2 separate regions of the Homo sapiens genome follow, and region 2 is linked to region 1. Evidence: fine-mapped expression QTL. Tissue or cell type: whole blood. Region 1 holds a variant in brackets; the other region holds the start of a gene. All regions are shown on one strand. Distances are between the middles of the regions.

Region 1 (2,682 bases):
AGATTTTTAAAGGTGACGTTAAGTTTCAACAAATAGAAAGAACTCTGGATCAGGCAGCCAAACAATCCACAATGATGGGTTTAGGAACAGACTGAAGGTTCAATTCCCCACTCTCACTTCTCAATGAACAACTTGACAACTTGTACTTTTGCAGCTGTCAAACTGCACTCCATGTCACACAGCCCTAAAAGCAGCTTTCAAGTAATTTTTAAAAAGAATATTCAGTGCACTTTTAGAAATGCAGCCTCAAGGTCAGTCTCAAGGAAGATGCTTTTGAAATAGCTCATATGAAAGGAAATCTATCTTCTGCCACTCAACTATTGTTTTCCTGAGAAAACACCCTGTGTCCATGCCCTGATACCTCTGCTCCATTCCCTAAGGGACTAGGGAGAGAGGACCAGCAGGAGGCAAATGTTCAAGATCAAGATGACCACTAAATTAAATGATAAATTATTCATCGTCTAAAGAACATCAAACTGTTTTGGAATTTTTGGACTCTCCAAACAAAACCCCAGCAGATTAGATATGGTACTATGTTACTGAAAGTCAAAGCTAGATAATTTTATAGCCCAGTGATCTCCATGGTGGGGTGCCCATATCCCAGGGAAAATGGGGGAAATATTAGGAATTCTATTTAGAGTTTTACTCTAAAACTTCTTTGCATATCTTTGCATATATTTTATAACGTACATTTTATATTAATGAAATAGTATACATATGTAGATTTAAAATAAACATACATATTGGATCCTACAATTCTTTGCTGAAGGAATATGTGATCAAAAGTCATTTGAAGGCCACTTTCAAAACTGACATTTCTGGTTCTTACAACATTTCACAATGGTTATCAAAGATTTATAAAATGTGTATTTGAGTAAGAGCAGCGTAATCAGATTCCTAGCTGTTCGGGTAGCTCATATAAAGGTATGATGGAAATTGATTAATTTATCTTTTCTCAACAACGGTATATAGATACTACATACCTATCTAGAGACGGAATCTTGCTAGGTTGCCAGGCTGGCCTGGAATTCCTGGTCTTAAGTGATCCTCCAGCCTTGGCCACCCGCAGCGCTGGGATTAGAAGTGTGAGCCACTGCACTAGGCCACAACTTTTTTTACACAATTGAAAAGAGCTGTGTTTCTTTAATAGTCATAAAGATAATGAATGAGGTACCTCCCTGGAATGCGAGGCCTGAGAAGATGGGGCCTGGAGGTGTCTACATTTCCATAAATAAAAAGAAATAAGATGAAAGCTTCTAC[A/G]TTAAAATGAAAAGTCACGGACCCTGACCTTATTCCAGCCTCTTTGTAAAACACTGGAACGCAGAGGGTGACCAGTGACAGATGAGGCCTCACTTGCACGCTGCAACTTCAGGCTGCACGCCAGAATCTGAAGGTTTCTCCCAAAGCCAACTCTTATGACAAATTATGACAAATCAGATCATTGAAAATGGTATAAAATATTCCTCTGATCTACTGGATTCCCCAGTTTTATATTCTTTCAGAAGCAAACACGTGGCATACAAAGGAGGATCCCCTCTGACAAAGGTGGGCATACTCAGACTCTCAGCACCGCCACACCCACTACCACGGCCGCCTGCCCACCTCGAGCGGTGGCTTGAAAAAGGCAACACAGACGGACCTGCTGTCCACAGGCACCCCGTACCCTCAAAGCGCTGAATGCTGCCCAGGATGTCGATGTTGGCTTGCAAATATGGCCAACTGACTTGACGGCCTCAACCATTCTGATCTTTTGATAATTCTGTCATAGAATCGGTTTAAAAAGCCACACTTTATAGGTACAGATATATATGTGTCTGAGGAAAACCAAATAGTACTCTCCACATTGTTACTTAATTTTGAGACTGTTTTCCTTTTGCCTTCACAGTCTTGCTTGGTAGCTTTGAGCAGCAAAAGAAAAGGTTCACTTGAGCCATTGATGGTGCACTACACAGAGATGCATGCCAGACAACACGTGGGTGACCACACCGGGTGGGCAAGGAAATTACCATGAAGTGATGAAACAAATGGCATGCTGGTGACTGTTAACCCATCAGCGACGGTGGCTCCAACCCCAGCAGTGCATGGAGGGTGAACCAATGCTGAGTGGAAAGGTGTGAGGAGCCGAAGGAAAGCAAATACTTACCTAGGGTCCCATCCCCTGTCGACTTGAGGGCATTTAACTCTTCTTTTGTCATCTTGGTAGGACCTTGGTATCCAACATTATTGAGGGTGTCGGAAGTCTCTCCATTGGTAGCTATTTCTGAATTTAGGATTATTCCATGTTTCTGGGAACAAAAATAGGCTCATCGTAATATTTACTCAGTGATATTAGGTTAAACTCTGTTTTAATACAATAATAAAAAAGAAAACCATTTTTTCCTGAAGTACAGGGTAACTCCACAGAGACAAGAGAAATGCTAGGGTGCAGCACTCGTAAATATTCGGTCAACACACACAAATCTGGGATATCGTCCTCCAAAGGCTACTTCTTTCTCAGATGTTCCAATCCATGCTTTCATTTGCTGGTGACAAGCTACTTCCACCAGGCATCCTTTTTAACTACAGGTAGTGGCCTGTGGGCTGCCCCCAAGTGGAGCAGTAAGCAAGTCACTGCCAAGTGACCTTTCATTTCAAAACCCTGATTGCATTCTTTAAAAAGAGAAACCAGATAAAGAAAGAAAT
Region 2 (2,682 bases), 130 kb after region 1:
AACTACAAACACCTAAGGATTGGTTACAGAGTAGATCCCCCAGAATATCTGACGGATACAGCCAGACACCACAGTCCAAATGGCTTGGAGGTGTTTCCTGTGGGAAGAATCACATGTGGAAAAGCCAACACGGAAAAGAACCTGTAAGGCGGGTTACAAGGCAGAGACTTTCTTTGCATTCATACACCCACCTGGCACACAGTTCAAATGGTACAAAGGGAACACAGTCAAAAATTAAGCTTCCTTTGTCCCCCTGGGGCCGCAACCTATTGGCTCCCCTTTTCCCAAGCTGCTGCTCTCTGTCCCTGTACGGCTTTCTGGATGTCATGTACATTCTTTAGCCTTAAGGTAGAATCCTTGCGGAAGGAAAAAAAAAAAGGCATTTGTACAAATACCCATTCTAGTGCGCCTTCAATTTGTCACAGGTAAAGTTCATCACCAAACATGATCTTAGTTACAATAAACTCTGTCCAGGAAACTTTAATGAAGACGTTTCAGTGTGCCTGGACCCGTTTCCAGGCTCAGTCCTGAAAGAAAAATCACAGTGATCCCCAAGTTCATCTCTGAGCTGCACCTTGAGTGACATCGATGGATGGATGACAAATGGTCACCTGAGCGACTCGGCCATTTCAGCAGGGCCATGTGGCCTCCGGCGACCGTCCACTGCCTCCAGGTCGGGCCTAAGCCCCCGCCTCCTCCCATGCCGCACAACAAAGCGGGGCGCTCGCCCCCACCCGGCCAGCCCGGGCCACCTCGCGCGCTGGCGGCGCCCGGCTCCTCTCCCGAGGGCGCAGCGGCCGACGGTGGCCGGGGTGGGGGAGGGCGCGCAGCGTCGCGGGCTGGGCCCGGGGCTGGAGAACGGGTGCGGGGTCCGCAGGCCTCGGAGATCGGGGCCGGGGCGCAGCGCCTGGGGATCAGCGCCCCGGCGCGCGCCTGCCCGGCCCACCCGCCTGGAGCCGGACGCGCAGTGGCACAGACGCACAGCGGGACAGACGGACGCCGGAGAGACCCTGACAGCCGTCCGGCCCCCGCGCCCGCCCGGCGCCCCCCGGCTGCCCTCCCGGAGCGCTCACCTCCCGCGCGATCTGGTTGAGCGCGTCGTCCTCCGCCGTGAGCCGCTCCCGGTTGGGGAGCCGCTTGCGCCCCGATCCCTGGGTGCCCATGTCCATCGACCGCGTCGCCCGCAGCTGCCGCGGGGCCCGTTGCTCCAGCCGCTCGCGCCGCCCCGGCCCGGCCCCGGCCCCGGCCCCTCCCTCCGCCGCGGCGTCATGGCGTCAGCGGGCGCTGGGCCGGGGACGCGGGGACGCGGGGGGACGGGGGCCGCGGGGACCCGGGGGAAGCCAGAGCCGGAGGTCCGCAGCGCGGGCCAGGGACTGCAGGGGCCAGGGACGGCGGGGCGGGGGACGGGGGCGGGGGGCGGAGACGCCAGGTGTCAGGGACGATGGGGGTCCGATACCACGGGGACGCTGCGGATGCCCAGGGCCGGGCACGCGGGACCTGAGGGACCGGGAGCCCCGGAGGGTGGACTTTGCGGGGACTGTTTGGCGGGCCGGTAATCGCGGAGCGACGCGCGCCAGGGCGGTGGGCACCGGTTGAGTGGGGACCTGAGCGGAGAGCGGGGGGGTAGGAAGGCTTTCAGAGGCCTGAGTTGCCTTGAGGGGTTTGCACGGAGGGGTGAGCACAGGATTTGGTTCAGCCTGGCGCTCCCCATTCCGCGGTGAGTCGGGGTGGAAGTCCCTCGCCGGGGTGAGAGCTAGGCTCTGGGGTCAGGCCGAGAGGTGCTCGGATCCGCCCGCCACCGCCGCTCCTGTGACCTTGGCCAGCCTCCTGGGCGCCGGCTTCACAGCGGCATGGTGTGGATGTGTGCGTTTCTGTCTTTACACGCGTGTTCTCCGTGCTAGCATCCATCCTTCTCCCCGCTGTCTGCCCCCTGAGATCAAGGACTTGTCACTTCTCTGGTGGGTCCCCAGCCTCTAGGATCGGGGCAGGTGCGTCGCAGCTCTCTCCTAGTTGTTGAAAAAGTAATGAACTTACCTGTGCTCTCTGAAGCTCACAGTCTATGCTCCAGAGGTGGATTTAAAAGTAAAGCAAATCGGAGGATTAGGTAGGGGTTAAAAGCCCCTGCCTAGGGCACGGCAGGAGCACCGGGTGGGAAAGTTACTGGTGTGTTTGGGGTATGGGGAGAACTTCAGTGTGGCTGGACCTGGGGAAGGATGGGAGGGAGGGTAGTGATGGTAGAGGAGAGGAGGCTGTACTGAAGTCACCTGTGATTTTTTTCCCCCAGTGATAAGGACAGTTAACATTTCGGTGTATTTCCCACCAAGTGGTGTGACCAGATTGCTTTGGATTCTTAAGGAGGTGGCCTGGAAGCTGTATGAAGGTGGGAAGAGGAAGAGGGCCCTTCCACCCACAGTGGCAGGGAAAGCTGTTGGAGGTTTCATTGCAGGGAAAAGACAGCGAGTCCAGTGACATGGGAGGGAGGGCAGATCCAGGTGACATTGCTCTGGGTGCCTGAGCTGACGCAGGTGGGTTGGCAGGGCTGACTGTGGCATTGTTCATGACTGAACTCCGGGAGCAGAAACTGCACCTGCACATTGTAGGCACTAAGGAAATAGGTGTTGACTGAATCTTCCAGGCCATATTTACATTACTTCAGAGGCCATACTCCTTAAGTGACATAGT

Evidence for each region. PIP is the estimated chance that this variant, and not a neighbour inherited with it, causes the effect.
Region 2: it holds the start of LRRFIP1, and the variant in region 1 is fine-mapped to the expression of LRRFIP1 in whole blood (TOPMed, PIP 0.94).

What each region holds. Positions count from the first base shown.
Region 1 is chr2:237,759,667-237,762,348 of GRCh38, reverse strand. LRRFIP1 (LRR binding FLII interacting protein 1) reads right to left here. Exons shown (of 24, transcript NM_001137550.2): 19 at 2,144-2,285. Among named protein-coding and RNA genes, the nearest start is that of RBM44, 38 kb to the left of the region's middle. The variant A/G (reference allele first, on the strand shown) is at 1,261.
Region 2 is chr2:237,626,132-237,628,813 of GRCh38, reverse strand. It overlaps LRRFIP1 (LRR binding FLII interacting protein 1), which reads right to left and starts at 1,227. Exons shown (of 24, transcript NM_001137550.2): 1 at 1,074-1,227. The coding sequence starts at 1,169.